2 separate regions of the Homo sapiens genome follow, and region 2 is linked to region 1. The links come from fine-mapping of genetic effects on gene expression. Tissue or cell type: whole blood. Region 1 holds a variant in brackets; the other region holds the start of a gene. All regions are shown on one strand. Distances are between the middles of the regions.

Region 1 (8,000 bases):
AGAAGACAATGATATCTATAATCATATGTATTCAGGGGTTCAGATAAGGTAAATGTTTTCATATTTGGCTATCTTTTGGGAGGGAGTTAGGAGTATGTGGGGTGTGTAAAAGAAATTTGCTTATTGTTTAATGCCCAATCTTTATCCCCCTATTGTATATATATTCACATTCTTAAAATAATCTTGACTTAAATTGTCAGAATGTAGCTTTCCTTGGTCTAGGTGAGGACAGAAGCCACTGGCACATGTGCCATAAGAGCTCACTTCCACCGTTCTGCTTTCCACTATGAGAGTCACATCAGCTGCCAATATGATCCTTCATACTTGGAGAGTGGAAGTCTGTGTTAAAATACTTGTGCATTATGCCTGGCATATCATTGGCACTCAATAAAATGAAGCTTCTGTTTTATGCTATTTCTGTAAAATTAATAGTTTTTGATACCCCTCTAATATTTTAAGTTTTTGGAATTCTAGCAGTACTAATGATCATATACTGGCTTACCTCTGTTTATTACACTTTACAGTTCATTGTGCTTCACAGATACTGTGTTTTTTCACAAATTGAAGTTTTGTGGCAATACTGTGTTGAGCAGATCTCTCTGCCATTTTTTTCCAGCAGCATGTGCTCACTTCCTGTCTCTGTGTCTCATTTTTTCATTATCATTATGTCTGTTATGGTGATCTCTGATCAGTGATCCTTTTTGTTTGTTTGAGACGGAGTTTCACTCTTGTTGCCCAGGCTGGAGTGCAATGGCACGATCTCGGCTCACCGCAACCTCAGCCTCCCAAGTAGCTGGGATTACAGGCTTGTGCCACCATGCCTGGCTGACTTTGTATTTTTAGTAGAGATGGGGTTTCTCCATATTGGTCAGGCTGGTCTCAAACTCCTGACTTCAGGTGATCCACCCGCCTCAGCCTCCCAAAGTGCTGGGATCACAGGCGTGAGCCACCACACCCACCCTGATCAGTGATCTTTGATGTTACTATTGTAATTGTTTTGGGACACCATTAACTGCGCCCAAGATAACAAACTTCATCTGTAAACGTTGTGTGTGTTCTGACTGTTCCACCAAGCAGCCATTCCCATCTCTGTCCCTCTCCTCAGGCTTCCCTATTGCCTGAGACACAACAGTATCGAAATTAGGCCAATTAGTAATCCTCAAATGGCCTCTATAAGTATTGAAGTGAAAGGAGGAGTTGCGTATCTCTCACTTTAAATCAAAAGCTAGAAATGATGAAGGTTAGTGAGGAAAGTATGTCTAAAGGCTGAATAGCCCAAAAGCTAGGCCTCTTGTCCAGTTAGCTAAGTTGTGAATGCAAAGGAAAAGTCCTAGAAAGAAATTAAAAATGCTATTCCAGTAAACACATGAATGATAAAGCAAAGCAAAACAACCTTATTGCTTAGTTTCTCAGGGTTCAAAGCAAAATAAAATAATAACAAAAAAATGGACTTATGCTAATATGGAGAATGTTTTAGTGATGTGGATAGAAGAACAAACCAGCCGCAACATTCCCTTAAGCCAATTCCTAATCCAGAGCAAGGACCCAACTCTCTTCAGTTCTATGAAGGCTGAAAGAGGTGAAGAAGCTGCAGAAGAAAAGTTTGAAGCTAGCAGAGGTTGATTCATGAGGTTTAAGAAAAAAAGCTAAGTGCAAGGTGGAGCAGCAAATGCTGAGATAGAAGCTACAGAAAGTTATCCCAGAAGATATAGCTAAGATCATTGTTGAAGGTGGCTACACTAAACAGATTTCAGTGTAGACTCAATAGTTTTATATTGGAAGAAGATGCATCCAGAACATTCATAGCTAGAGGGGAGAAGTCAATGCCTGACTTCAAAGGGCAAGCTGATCTCTTGTTAAGGGTTAGTTAAGCTGATGACTTTAAGTTGCAGGCAGTGCTCATTTACCATTATGAAAACCCTAGGGCCCTTAAGAATTATGCTAAATCTACTCTGCCTGTGCGCTATAAAGGGAACAACAAATCATGGATGATAGCACATGAATTTACAGTACAGTTTACTGAATATGTTAAGTCCACTGAGACCTAGTGCTCAGAAAAAATATTTCAAAATATTACTGCTCATTGACAATGCACCCAGTAACCCAAGAATTCTGATGCAGATGCACAAGGAGATTGTTGTTTTCACGCCTGCTAATACAGCATCCATCCCACAGTCTGGATCAAGGAGTGATTTCAATTTTTAAGTCTTTGTATGTAAGAAATACTTTTTAGAAAGCAGTAGTTGCCATAGATAGTGATTCCTCTGATGGATCTGGGCAAAGTAAATTGAAAACCTCTGGAAAGGATTCACCATTCCAGATTTCATTAAGAACATTCATGATTCCTGGGAGGAGATCTGAAAAAGTGCTGTAATCCAAGCATTTTGGGAGGCTGAGGTGGAAGGATCTCCTGAGGCCAGGAGTTCAAGATCAGCCTGGGCAACATAGCAAAACCCTGTCTCTGTAAAAAATAGAAAAAATTAGCTAGGCATGGTGGCATGCGCCTGTGGTCCCAGCTACCCGGAAGGCTGAGGTGGGAGGATCGCTTGAGCCCAGGAAGTCGAGGCGGCACTGAGCTATGATTATACCACTGTGCTCCAGCCTGGATGACTGAGTGAGACCCTGTCTCAAAAAACAGAACAAAACAAAAAAAAATTGCAGTTATGCCCTGAGCCAAATGTTGAGCTTTTCTGCCCACAAAGTGCAAAATTGTAGTACTGGCAGAGGTGCAACCCAAGGGGTCGCCAGGGTTCTCACCGCCCTTGGCCATGGGGCAGGCTGATCTAGACAGCAGGGGGATGTTTTCAGGGCTGAAGGTTCCCCCTACCTAGTCGTGAACACATCGGGTGCTGGAGCACCTGTGTTCCCATGAGGCCAGCGTGGGCCATGCATGGCTTCAAAAGGCCCTCGAGGCTTGACTAAGTGCGCCAGTTTCATTCTGAACATGCTGCTCTAAAACACATCCCTGCTGAGCCACAGGAGGATCAGATATTGTGAGCTTCTGGCCCGTTGATGCTCAAGAGCTGGGGCATGCGGGGAAGACTCCAGAACTTCTAACTCTCGCTAACCTTACATCTGGGATTCTTACGCCCTCAGCTGAAGAACTCTATGAATTTCAGCTTTGAAGAGGTTCTTCTAACACTTGGCCAATTTCAACCAGGCTTTGCTAAAGTCCTCTGAAATTGGGGGTCTGAAAGCCAGTTACTTGGATCACAAGTTACCTGTGAAATCTGCAAGGACCTGCTGTCAGGGCTCATTAAACCCCGAAGTATGGCACCTTGGCATGCGGACTACTCTGACCCAGAGGAGACTGGAAGGCCTCAGAAGCCAGGTCTTTGTCCTTCCCTCCTGGTTCCTGCCTCCTTTTCTCCCCCAAATTGAGTCCCAGAAACCAGAATTCCTTTTCCTCAAAGCAGGTCTTAGAAACTAGAATTCCTTTCTCTCAAACCCAGCCATAAAACCTAGCTAGGTCACTCTCTCCCTTCTCCCTGGAAGATCCTCATTCCCGAGGGGGATACCCAGGGGAAGGGGAATTGTACAGAGCGGCTTTGCTGGGTTTCCCGACTCTGTCCATCACCGTTAGGCCAGATCCTTTGTGTCCAATCACATTTCTGCGTGGATGTTCATTCATCAAACCTAAATACAAAAATAAACGTTTTTATGGCCAGGACAAAAAAAAATTAACAGGAGTTTGGAAGAAGTTGCTTCCAACCCTCATGGATGACTTTAGGGGTATAAGACTTTGGTGGAGGAACTAATTCCAGACGTGGTAGAAATTGCAAGAGAAGTAGAATTAGAAAATGGAACATGAAGATGTGACTGAATTGCTGCAACCTCATGATAAAACTTGGACAGATGAGGAGTTGCTTCTTACGGATGAGCAAAGAGTGGTTTTTCTTGAGGTGGGGTCTGTTCCTGTTGAAGATGCTGTGAACATAGTTGAAATGAAGACAAAGGATTTAGAATATTACATAAGCCTGTTAATAAAGTAGTAGCAGGGTTGGCAAGGATTGACAACAATTTTGAAAGAAATTCTACTGTGAGCAAAATGCTATAACAACATTGCATGCTACAGAGAAATCTTCCGTGAAAGGAAGAGTCAGTCTATGTGGCAAACTTAATTGT[C/T]TTATTTTAAGAGATTGCCAGTTGGTCAGGTGCAGTAGATCATGCCTGTAATCCCAGCACTTTGGGAGACTGAGACAGGTGGATCACTTGAGCCCAGGAGTTTGAGAACAGCCTGGGCAACATGGCAAAACTCCATCTCTACAAAAAATACAAAAATTAACTGGGCATGGTGGTGTGCACCTGTAGTCCCAGCTACTCGGGAGGCTTAGGCAGGAGGATTGCTTGAGCCCAAGAGTTCGAGGCTGCAGTGAGCTATGATCATGCCACTGCAACTCCAGCCTGGGTGACAGAGCAAGACCCCATGTCTTTAAAAAAAAAAAAAAAAAAAGACTCCCTGAAGGCTTAGATTGTTATGAGCATTTTTTTAGCGATAAAGTATTTTTAAGTTAGGGTATGTGCTTTTTTTTATGAAATGCTATTGCATACTTAATAGACTACAGTATAATGTAAACCAAAAAATTGATGCGACTCTCTTTATTGCAATACTCGCTTTATTATGGTGGTCTGGAACGGAACCTGCAGTTATCTCCAAGGCATGCCTGTAATTCAGTCCTTCATTTTACATATGAGGGGAATATATGTCACTTAATATAACCCCATTTAGTTTACATGTTAGGAAACTCTACAATAATAATCTGTAGTAAAGTATGTTCTGTGGGAAATACAGGATTAAGCAAAATTAAACCACTTTCTTCTCAGGGCATCTTGGACTCCATTGTATAGTTAATTCTTACTAAGTGACTTATGTGGATTTCTCCACTGTTTACCTCACGTAACATGAAGATATGGGAGTAGAAGCTATTGAAATGGTATTATTGTCTATTCTGTTTACAGGACTGGAAGCAACCCCAAAATTAGACGCAACAAAATCTGGGGAGGACAGAATGGTGGAATTCTAGTTTATAATTCTGGTATGTTTAATCTGTCATCTTTTTTCTGTGTTAATAAACTTTAGAAATACACCTTCTAGGCCGGGCACGGTGGCTCACGCCTGTAATCCCAGCACTTTGGGAGGCCGAGATGGGTGGATCACCCGAGGTCAGGAGTTTAAGACCAGCCTGGCCAACATGGTGAAACCCTGTCTCTACTAAATATTACAAAAATTAGTTGGACATGGTGGCACACGCCTGTATTCCCAGCTACTTGGGAGGCTGAGGCAGGAGAATCACTTGAACCCGGGAGGTGGAGGTTGCAGTGAGCCAAGATCGCGCCACTGCACACTCCAGCCTGGCAACAGAGCGAGACTCTGTCTCAAAAAAAAAAAAAAAAAAAAAAATTAAAAAGAAATATACCTTCTAGATAACCTACATTTTTGCATTTATAGGTCTAGGCTGTATAGAAGACAATGAAATATTTGACAATGCAATGGCTGGAGTCTGGATTAAGACAGATAGTAATCCTACACTAAGAAGAAATAAAATCCATGATGGAAGAGATGGTGGCATCTGTATATTTAATGGGGGTCGAGGTATTGTTGTTAATTTTGCATTAGTGAAAAATCCAGTTTTCCATTATTCTTCCATATCTTTAATGATCAATGACATTGCTAACTAAGTTATAAATGAGTGAATCTCAAGTCTTTTTCCTTATCAAGTTGAACTGGTTTAGGAGATTAGTGCCTAGAGTTAAGAGACAAATGTTTACAATACTTTTCCTTTTGTAGCCACTTTGAGTCTGCAGTTGTCAGTAAGCCTTTTTAAAGATAGAATTTGTTTACATTCTCTGGACCTTTTAAAATTCAGAATAGTAATATGATTATAATAAACTTCAAAGTCAAGTTATAGAAATAGATGTGAGAAATTGATCTGTAAATATCTGAAAATGTCTTTAGTAAACGGGTATTGCTTTTGTAACTGTTTTCAACTGTGTTTGTTGGAGAGTGGAATTAATGAAGCCAAGATGTGCCTGGTTTGGTATTCATAAAGGTCAACTCACTTTGCATTGAGGCAAAAGTTCCATAGTGCCTGCCCCTTACAGATGCATGTATACAGAGATTCACAGAGCTGCCAAATGCAAATCTATCGCTGTTCCTGAAATGTCAATAACCCAACATTTGTACATATCTTACATAGAATAGCTAGTTATTACTCTAACATGCCAAGATTTAATGAACAAAATTTAATACCACAGCCAAGCAGTGATGATTCCATTGACAGACTCTCCAGGAGCTTATAATCTAGTAATTCAGTAAAGTGACGTATCTCAGATAGTTTTCACAAAATATAGTGAAGACACACAATACAGAATGGTTTATTTGCAAGGTGTTGAGAAATGGTTCACGCAAGTCAAATCACTTTTGAGCCGTGTTTTGAAAAATGAGTAGATATTTACTGGCAATTGGGTTTGGGAGAGGCGAACAGACCATTCCAGATGTTATTTCACTTTTATTCTTTAGATACTGATTTAACACCTCTGTACCAACTACTATGATACAGATGCTAGAGATATGCTAAATGAAACAGCACATCCATAAAATGTATAGTGTGATGGAGTGGAGCACATCGTAAACAAAAGTCTAGAGGAAACTGAAAGTAAGGGAAGAGGTACAGAAAATTGAGGCTACAGAAGGGGCAAGGCCCAAATCATGAGGTTTTCCATATGCAGTAAGGAGTTTGGAATCCATCTTAGCAATAGCACTTGAGGTGTAGTGGAAATAATCAAGATTAGAGACAGGGACTTGGAATAACTCAGGCAATAAATAATGAGAGCCTAAACTAAAATGATAGCATAAGGGTGTGAAAAGGTTGGGGGGGCAGGGGGTGGGACATGTTAATGATACTTAAAAGGACAGAACCAACTGGGCACAGTGGCTCACACCTGTACTTCCAGCTGCTCTGGAGGCTAAGGCAGGAGTATCACTTGAGTCTGGAGTTGGAAACCAGCCTAGGCAATGTAGTAAGACCGTATCTCTATAAAAAGGGTGGAACCAACAGGACTGGGTCATTGATTTAATATGGGGGTTGAAAGTAAAGTGAAATATGATGGGTGCTCAGGATTCTGATTTGGGTGGGTGACTACCTTTCACTGAGGTAAGTTATATAGGAAATGGTTTCTGGAAAACATTAGTAAGGTCAGTTTTTAAACACTGAATCCAAGGTTGTCTTCTGGAATATCCAAATTGGTTATGACCAGAATGTGATTCATTATACTAAGCTAAAGGAATAGATTAAAGAATTAGCAACAGTGGCCGGGTGCAGTGGCTCATGCCTGTAACCCCAGCACTTTGGGGGAGGCCCAGGTGGGTGGATCATTTGAGGTCAGGAGTTTGAGACCAGCCTGGCCAACATGGTGAAACCTAAAAATACAAAAATTAGCCAGGTGTGGTGGCAGGTGCTTGTAATCCCAGCTGCTTGGGAGGCTGAAGCAGGAGAATTGCTTGAACCCGGAGGCAGGGGTTGCAGTGAGCCAAGATCACACCATTGCACTCCAGCCTGGGTGGCAGAGTGAGACTCTGTCTCAAAAATTAAAAAGCAACAGTGTATATGCAATAGTTGCAAGATGTAAGATCACCCAAAGAGTATGCAGAGGGAAATGAGGGACAGAACCCAGAAATATTAATACCCAGGGAGTGAACAGGAGGAGGACCCCAAGAAGTTACTGAGTCAGATTTTTCCCACTCATCCAGGTGAAAGTTTAGGTCAATAATGTGAAATACCAGAGGGATTAAATGTCTACAGAAATAAAACCATGTCTCACATTAAGACAAACAAGTAGGTTGGAGGGATATTTTGAAAGGCAAGGTGATATTAAACTTTATTCTGAAAGTAGTTTGTTAGAGAAAGAGGCATGATAAGAGTTGCAGTTAACTGATTGGAAACTATGCAGCAGATGAAACTGGAATAAAGGAAACTCATCAGGAAATGATTATAGTAATA
Region 2 (9,510 bases), 32 kb after region 1:
TAGGATTTTGCAAGTGCTTTTAAAGCTTTAAGTGAGTCTTAAATGTCCGGTATTCTTGGGGTTTTTTAAGACGGTGGGGAAAAATGTTAAGAGGAAAAGCTGACAGCTCACAAAATAAATGTTAAAACTTTGATATAATAAGTAATGGCTTTGTCTAAACATACGCTAAACAGATCTTTTGAATTCTGGTTTAAAATCACATTATTTTTGCTTTCTCTTTAGCCCATAATTTTGATGTCAATTACTAGTTGTTCCTAAAATATATAATCAACATTTTCACCAACTTTTATTTTATTTTTTGGCAGACAGGGTCTGACTCTGCCACCCAGGCTGGAGTGCATGGCATGATCTCTTGGCTTACTGCAGCCTCAACCTCCTGGACTCAAGCGATCCTCCCATCTCAGTCTCCCAAGAAGCTGGGACTACAGGCACACGCCACCATGCCTGGCTAATTTTCTTATTTTTTGGAGAGACAGGGTCTAGCCATGTTGGCCTGCCTTGGCCTCCCAAAGTGTTGGGTTTACAGGCATGAGCCACTGCACCCAGCCTCCCTGTGGATTTCTTAAATAAAACCTATAGAAACACTAACCACAGAGAAAATAAAAGGACAAATTCCACATTATAATCAATAATTTGTTCATCGAAAGATGCCATAAGGCTGGGTGTGGTGGCTCACACTTGTAATCCCAACAGGTTGGGAGGCTGAAGTGGGAGGATCGCTTGAGAGCAAGAGTTCAACACCAGCCTGGGCAACAAAGTGAGACCTCTATTATTCAACAACAACAACAAAGCCATAAACTAAATGAAAGAACTCATTGTGAAAGAAGACATTTATATCACACACAAATGACAAAGAACTAGGAAAAAAAAAAGAAACAGCAAAAGACAAACACTTCAGCACAAGAAGAAATCTAAATGACAAACATTAAAAGATGCTCGGACAGACACGGTGGCTCACGGCCAGGTGCGGTGGTTCACGCCTGTAATCCCAACACTTTGGGAGGCTGAGGTGGGTGGATCACCTGAGGTCAGGAGTTCACGACTGGCCTGACCAACATGGTGAAACCCGTCTCTACTATAAACACAAAAATTAGCTGGGCGTGGTGGCAGGCACCTGTAATACCAGGTACTTGAGAGGATGAGGCAGGAGAATCGCTGGAACCCAGGAGGCGGAGGTTGCAGTGAGCTGAGACCACACCACTGCACTCCAGCTTGGGCAACAAGAGTGAAATTCCGTCTCAAAAAAAAAAAAAATACGCTCAACATGTTTTAAGGCTTAAATGATTCATGGAGTAAGTCCGAATGTCTCTGTAGCTCATCAGACTGTTCATGATTGGATCTCTGCTTAACTTCTCCAATGCTCCCTCCTCCTCCTTTCATCCTACCCACAATTTGCAGACCTTCCTCTTCCTGAACCAGCTTCCCACTCTCACTATAATCTGTCTAAGCTTATTTGTCCTTCTGGTTTCGGTTTACAGAGCTGAGAGCCTAGCCTGACCCGCATCCTCTCCGTCCCCTTTCCACTTGGAGTCTACAATTGCCTCTTTGCTTTGTCCTGTTCATGGTTGTATCCAGGATCCATAATGCCTAATGCTGTGCTCGGCAGAGTGATCTAGACACTGCAGTTTCTTTAGAAACCTAGTATCAAATGCCCATCTTTCTTGAATACCCTGGAATCCTCTCCATAACGGGAGGTGAAATGTATACGTTTTATTTTTACAAGTCTCTTAAACTCAACCTCAAGAAACAAATAACATACGCTATTCAATATGAATGTAAAGTACATCCTTACAATAAATACACCCGTTTGGTTTGGATTCAACAATCAATTCATGCTCAAGTAAACAATACGTCATGCTTTTCTAACCAGGAGTTTGTTATTGCGGATGCTGGCTCTGTTCCCCACAAGCATATTCTACTAATGCACAACTATATATATTTAAACTGCGGGAAAGGGTCGCTTAAACAAGGGTAACACTATAATTACACTTAGAAAAATCTCAGAATTCCTTTAGGACACTTTAAACTGGATTTAAATGGATTTGAAATCCATTACTCAAAACCACTAACTAGCGGCCGGGCACGGTGGCTCACACCTGTAATCCCAGCACTTTGGGAGGCTGAAGTGGGTGGACCACTTGAGGTCAGCAGTTTCAAGACCAGCCTGGCCAACATGGTGAAACTCCATGGTGAAAAATCAGCCGGACCGCGGTGGGCACACCCGTAATCCCAGCTACTCGGGAAGCTGAGGCAGGAGAATCACTTGAACCCGGCGGGCAGAGGTTGCAGTGAGCCGAGAAAGCGCCACAGCACTCCAGCCTGGGCGACAGAGCGAGACTCCATTTCAAAACAAAACCAAACAAAAAACACGAACTGGCTCTTATCTTGAATGAGTTATTTTTTCTGAGCCTTTATTTCTTCGTTTGTTCAAATAGCGACCATTAAACTTTGTGTTTAGTATCTGACAAACGGCCGGGCTCGGTGGTTCATGCCTGTAATCCCAGCACTTTGGTAGGCCAATGCGGGCCGATCAAGAGGTCAGGAGTTCGATACCAGCCTGGCCAACATAGTGAAACCCGTCTCTACTAAAAATACAAAAATTAGCCAGGCGTGGTGGGGCGCACCTGTAGTCCCAGCTACTTGGGAGGCTGAGGCAGGATAATCTCTTGATCCAGAGACAGAGGTTGTGGTGAGCCAAGAACGCGCCACTGCACTCTAGCCTGGACAAAAGAGCAAGACTCTGTCTCAAAATACATATATATGTATCTGGCAAACAGCAAAAGCAAGCTTTTCAAAATGTCGCCAGCTGCCCGGATAAAAAGCCCTAAACAGACCGGGCGCGGTGGCTAGCGCCTGTAATCCCAGCACTTTGAGGCCGAGGCGGGTGGATCACCTGAGGTCGGGAATTCCGAGACTAGCCTGACCAACATGGAGAAACCCCGTCTCTACTAAAAATACAAAATTGGCGGGGTGTGGGGGCGCATTCCTGTAATCCCGACTACTCGGGAGGCTGAAGCTGGGGAATCGCTTGAAGCCGGGACGCGGAGATTGCGGTGAGCTGAGATCGCGCCATTGCACTCCAGCCTGGACTTGAGCGAAACTCTCTCTCAAAAAGGAAAAAAAAAAAAAAGCACTTAACTGCCCATAAAGTGAGGACAACTCCCGACAGGCTTCCCCGGAGTCACTCACGTCCACACATCTTTGTCCAGCGCCCGATTAAGGCCTCTAAAAGCCCAGTGGTGCCCCATAAAAATTACACTATTTCATAAAATAAAATATTTTCCACTCGACACGAATTTCCACATACGTCAAAATATTCTATCTTCGTCTCGGTGCACGTGCAGCCTACCTACCGAAGGACCCAGCCGGATCCCAGCACTTCGGCTCCCCACGGCCCCGCCCCGCCCAATTAGGCCCCGCGGTCCCCATGGTGACACACCCCCCCGCGCTCGCAGCTCGTGGCCCACCCCCTCGGCGGCCCCTCACCTAGGCCGAAGGCCCACCGTCCCCAAGGCGTCTCGGCGACCGCGGCTCTTAACTACCTCTAAGTGTCTACCTCGATCGACTACTGGAGCCCCAACTCACTATCTCCGCGCCGGCCGAGGAACCTCCTTTCGCACCCCACACCACCGGACTCTCCCCGTTCGGCCTCCCGCAGGCATTCCTCCTTCCCGCCACCCCGCCCCCCGCCCCGCCCACCAAGTGGGCCGGGCGCCTTCCCCTTCTCGCCCCACCCCCAGTGCTCCCACCTCCCAGGCCCCCTCCCCACCCGGAGCTGCGCGCGTCGCCCCTTCCTTAGCCCAGCACCCCCACCTGGCGGGACGCGTCTCCTCCCTCCAAAAGGCCCGAACTCTCCGCGTCTCCCCTGCAGCCCTCTTCCTGCACAGCCTCTCTCCTCCGACCCTGTTTACAAGCTACACCCCCAAATGCTCCAGACTCGACCCCTGCACTCATTCAAGCCAACTCTGCGGCCCCGCCTCCTCCGAGCCCAGGGCCAGGCCGTGCACCCCCCCAACCCCCTGTGCGAGCCTCCCCTCGCCGGGTTCCAAGCGCCCCGCCGCTATGCCCCCGCCTTCGACCCCACCCCCACCCCGCTACCTGGTGGGGGCAGCAGGCGCTACCGATCTCCGCAGCCCTCCGTTGAGGTTCTTCGCCTTGGGCGGTGACGCGGAGCGCGCCAAGGGCCTGGGCCCAGGCCCAGCCTCGCTCCAGGCCGCATCCCCGCCTGGGGAAGGAGAGGCCCCGGGGGCAGCGGCGGCACGGCCGCCTTCGCGTGAGGCCCTGGCCGAGGCCTTGTTGGCATCACTCAGCGCCGGAGACTTGGGGAAGAAGCTGTACAGGGTGCTCTGTCGCGACATACCGACAGCCGGCAAGGCCCAACCGTTCTGTCGGACGGAGCTCCTAAAAGCACCGCATCTACCGCGCGGCTCCTGCTGGCGGGAAATCTGGGGGGAGGCGCGCTCCGCCGGAGGAACCCGGGCCCCAGTGGCCAATCAACAGGCGCCTCGCCGTGCGCGGGCGGTGCGCGCCAGGCCCCGCCCCCGGGCGCGCGGCGACGTGGGGAAGGGCGGGGCTGGCACACTGGTGGGTAGGGGCGGGGCTGGCACGCTGGCGGTGAGGGGCCCGCCCTGCCGCCGACGCCTGGGCCCCGCGCGGGGAACTGCTGAGCTCCCCTTCCCTCACGCCGCGGGGCTGGCCGGGCCGGAACACTCCGACCCGGGGTTAGTTGCGGCCGCGGGGCTAGCAGGCTCGGAAAGCCCTGCCTCTCTGGAGCGGAAGCGGGAACAGCGGGGGCGCGCACCGCCCGGGCGGGGATAACCGGGGGGACCCGAAAGGCCTCGGAAAGGGGCTCGCGGGGAGAAACGCGTCCAGCGCTCGCGTGACCTCCTGCCGTTAGAGCATTTTCGCAAGGAGACGGAGCGAAAGGGACCAAACTTTAGTCAGCAGTTCACCTTCACGTTGTATTCTCAAGATTTGTATAGAGTAGGCACTTGGTAAACGCTAAATGAATATTGTAATAGCATTCGTTAGCGATGCTGTTGTGTATGGTGAAAGCCTGCAGCTGTACAAAGTTTTCCTTTGCCAGGCACTGATCCCAGCATTTTACATCTGGTAACTAAATCGATCCTCTCAATAACCTGTGACGTAAGTACTTAAGGGCCACAGTCCGTTATCTGAGCCCTTTGACCCAGGTGTGTCTTTACAGGATTTTTCAAATTTTAGAAAGCTAAGAGACTATGAGAGGCCGGGCGCAGTGGCTCACGCCTGTAATCCCAGCACTTTGGGATGCCGAGGCGGGCGGATCACCTGAGGTCAGGCGTTGAAGACCAGCCTAGTCAACATGGTGAAACCCCCGTCTCTACTAAAAATCCAAAAATTAGCCGGGCGTGGTGGCATGCGCCTGTAATCCCAGCTACTTGGGAGGCTGAGGCAGGAGAATAACTTGAACCTGGGAGGCAGCGTTTGCAGTGAGCCAAGGTCGCGCCACTGCACTCCAGCCTGGGCGACAAGAGCGAAACTCCGTCTCAAAAAAAAAAGAAAGAAAGCTAAGAGGCTATGAGAATAAAAAGGTTCTATTCAAATTCAAGAAAGATAGTGGAAGACAGACAATTGTTTGTCCCCTTATCCAGATTGTGAAATCCAGATTGCCGGAAACCAGTCACAATCAACAGCTGTACATTGGTAAAAACCTATGTAAAATTAGTTGTTTGCCTTGTTCTTGGAGACTGTTCTGCCAGAAGGTTCTCCTTTGCTAGGCAAGTAATAAAATCAATCTAAAAAAAAAAGGCGGGGGCCGGGCGCAGTGGCTCACGCCTGTAGTCCCAGCACTCGGCACTTCGGGGGGGGGGCGGAGGTGGGCGGATCACGAGGTCAGGAGATCGAGACCATCCTGGCTAACACAGTGAAACCCCGCCTCTACTAAAAATACAAAAAATTAGCCTGGCGTGGTAGCACACGCCTGTAGTCCCAGCTACTGGGGAGGCTGAGGTAGGAGAATGGTGTGAACCCGGGAGGCGGAGCTTGCAGTGAGCCGAGATCGCGCCTCTGCACTCCAGCCTGGGCGACAGAGCAAGACTCCCTCTCAAAAAAAAAAAAAGAATATTGCCAAAGGTGGTATGTGCTAAGAAAAATACAGTATGCTTCACGAATTTGCATTTCATCCCTGTGCAGGGGTCATTCCAATTTTGGTATATGTGCTACCCAAGCAAGCACAGTGAAACCAACTGTTTGAGATAATATTTGAGAGTTGGTCTCTTTCCCCCACCGGCATACGTAAACACCCCCAGAGAGTCTGGGGGAACATGCTGAAATCAAACATGCAGTAAAACTTACATGCTTATTCATACTAAGTAGAAAGAATACAGAATATAGACTATAAATAGCCTCAGGTCAAAATTTGCTACCAAATGAGTTTACCCCCAAACTTTTGGTTTACAGAGCTTTTTGGATTTCAGAATTGCACGTAAGAGGCTGGTTATCCTGTATCTCCATATCATGGATGAAGCTGAGGCACAGTTGGGTCAAGTAACTTGCCCATGACTGCATAGCTAGGAAGTGGTGGAGCCTGGATTTAAACTCAAGGAAGCTGGTTCTGGAGCCCTATGTTGTTAACAGAAATACTATAATACTTCCAATTTAACACCATTTTATCTCATTTAGTTATTACAACCACCTTATACTAGGTTGAACTATGTGAAATTGCCAAAATTTGCCCTTTTTAAAATTTTTTTGAGACAGGGTCTGGCTCTGTCACAGAGGCTGGAGTATAGTGGCGTGATCTTGGCTTACTGTAGCCTCAACCTCCCAGGCTTAAGTAATCCTCTCACCTCAGCCTCCTGAGTACCTGGGACCACAGGCCCGCAACACCATGCCCAGCTAATTTTTTTTTTTTTTAATTGAGGAGTCTTATTCTGTCACCCAGGCTGGAGTACAGTGACGCCATCTTGGTTCACTGCAACCCCTGCTTTGCGGGTTCAGGCAATTCTCATGCCTCAGCCTCCTGAGTGCTAGGATTACTGGTGCCTACCACCATGCCCAGCTAATTTTTGTTTTTTAGTAGAGACACGGTTTCACCATGTTGGCCTGCCTGATCCCAAACTCCTGACCACAAGTGACCCGCCTGCCTCAGCCTCCCAAAGTGCTGGGATTACAGGTATGAGCCACTGTGCCCGGTGCCCTGCTAGTATTTTAAAAATTTTCTGTAGAGACGAAGTTTCACTATGTTGCCCAAGCTGGACCTTTTTGGTTTTTTGGTTGTTTTGTTTTGAGACAGGGTCTTACTCTGTCTCCCAGACTGGTGTGCAGTAGTGCAGTCTCAGCTCACCACAACTTTCACCTCCCAAGCTCAAGCAATTCTCCTTCCTCAGCCTCCTGAATAGCTGGGATTACCGGCACGCGCTACTACTGCCCAGCTAATTTTTGTATTTTTAGTAGAGACAGGATTTCACCATGTTGGCCAGGCTGGTCTCAAACTCCTGACCTCAAATGATCCTCCTGCCTCGGCCTCCCAAAATGTTGGGATTACAGGCGGGAGCCACTGCGCCCAGCCAAGCTGGACCGTTTTTGAAGTACAAATATTAATATTTAATTCATTTTGGTTCAACTGAATATAACGTTATTCTCTTTTTGTTGTTGTTGTTTGTTTTTTTGGGGATGGAGTCTTGCTCTGTCACCGAGGCTGGAGTGCAATGGCACGATCTTGGCTCACCACAACCTCCGCCTCCCAGGTTAAGGCAATTCTCCTGCCTCAGTCTCCTGAGTAGCTGGGGTTACAGGCACCAACACACCCAGCTAAGTTTTGTATTTTTAGTAGAGATGGGGTTTCACCATGTTGGCCAGGCTGGTCTCAAACTCCTGACCTCGTGATCCGCCCATCTCTGCCTCCCAAAGTGCTGGGATTATAGATGTGAGCCACTGCGCCCGGCCGATGTTATTCTTTTACAGGGAGGAAATGGAGGTTCAGAGGGGATGCGCCAGTTGTAAGAGGTTAAGAGCCTGGGCTTTGGGTTAAATGGAGAACTGAGCTCTGATCCTAGCTAGCCAAGCAGATAACTCGGAGCAATTAATACTTTTCTGAACTTGTTTCCTCGTCTTTGATAAGGACAGTAGTACCTATGGGCCAAATTTTGGAGGCTACAGTTAGATGCCTCCCACAAACTTCATTAAAAGACAAGAGAACACATGTATTATGTGGGGACACTCAGACCCCCAGAATTGGCATGAATGTTACTTGGAACTGAAGACATTTGAGAGCCAACAGATGCAGAAAGATGCCGTTTCAAAGCTTCCCTTATGCGACTAACAGCAGAAATTTCTGGGAGTGAAGCTGCCGTAAATCTCCTCTCTAGGGGAGTTTTAGTGGCCAGAAAAAAAGACAAAGACCACTTGCACCTGCAAAAACAAACATTCTTATCTCCCTTTTGTTCCCCCAGAAACCTATTTGTTCTTCCCATGGAAGGCTTTTTCTCCCTCCTCTTCCCCTATTAAATGGTATATATAAAGTAGATTTCGAGATTCAAGAAAAAAAAAGTTGTATAAATGCCAAATAACAGCCTCCTGGACTCACTTTTTTTTTCTGTGAACTCCTGCATGCATATCTGAATAAAAGTCTGTCTTTTTTTTTTTTTTTTTCTGAGACAGGGTCTCACTCTGTTGCCCAGGCTGATCCTCCAGCCTCAGCCTCCCAAGCAGCTAAGACTGCAGGTGTGCGTCCTCACACCCTGATAATTTTATTTTCTGTAGAGACTGGGTCTTGCTATGTTGCCCAGGCCGGTCTCCAACTCTTGGGCTCAAGCCCTTCTCTCTACTTGGCCTCCCAAAGTGCTAGGATTACAGGCCTGAGCCACCGTGCCCGGCCCTAAACTGTCTTTAGTCTGCAGTGCCCAACCAACACATACATTCCATGACTATATATGGGTTATTTTGAAAACTGAATAAAAATATTTTTCTTTTATATGTATTTTTTTTTCAAATGGCTACACTTAGTAAATTGCATAACAATCAATGGAGTTGTTTTGGCCTAGGAGATGTGGCAGGAAAGTACTAAGGTAGTAAATATACTAGGTGTTTGGGAACCTCTGGCCTACTGGTTAAGAGCTCTGTATTCAAAGTTTGTGTTCACATCCCAGCTGAGCTGCTTACTAAACTGCACGAGCTTGTTGGGCAAGTTATTTAGCCTGTGCCTCAGTTTCTACATCTGTAAAACAGGGATGATATTAACACTACCTTCTTCATGGGTTGTGCTAAGCATTGAGTGAAAGGGCATTATGAAGCCCTCAGCCCAGTGCTTGGCACGCCATACGTATTCAATAAATTGGACAGTTATACAAATAAATCACCAACTGGCCAGGGACAGTGGCTCACACTTACAATCCCAACACTTTGGGAGGCCAAGACAGAAGGATGACTTGAGGCCAGGAGTTCAAGACCAGCTAGCAACATAGTGAGAACCGCCTCCTTCTCTACAAAAACATTTAAAAAATTTAGCCAGGAGTGGTGGCACGTGCCTAT

The links. PIP is the estimated chance that this variant, and not a neighbour inherited with it, causes the effect.
Region 2: MSH6 starts here. The variant in region 1 is fine-mapped to the expression of MSH6 in whole blood (TOPMed, PIP 0.95).

Annotation. Positions count from the first base shown.
Region 1 is chr2:47,810,827-47,818,826 of GRCh38, reverse strand. It overlaps FBXO11 (F-box protein 11), which reads left to right. Exons shown (of 23, transcript NM_001190274.2): 16 at 1-48; 17 at 4,960-5,036; 18 at 5,450-5,593. Among named protein-coding and RNA genes, the nearest start is that of MSH6, 32 kb to the right of the region's middle. RefSeq lists enhancers at 2,717-2,766, 2,927-2,996. The variant C/T (reference allele first, on the strand shown) is at 4,126.
Region 2 is chr2:47,778,082-47,787,591 of GRCh38, reverse strand. It overlaps MSH6 (mutS homolog 6), which reads right to left and starts at 4,447. Exons shown (of 10, transcript NM_000179.3): 1 at 4,099-4,447. The coding sequence starts at 4,358. RefSeq lists silencers at 3,665-3,754, 3,955-4,114, 4,395-4,874, 6,025-6,206 and an enhancer at 5,005-5,074.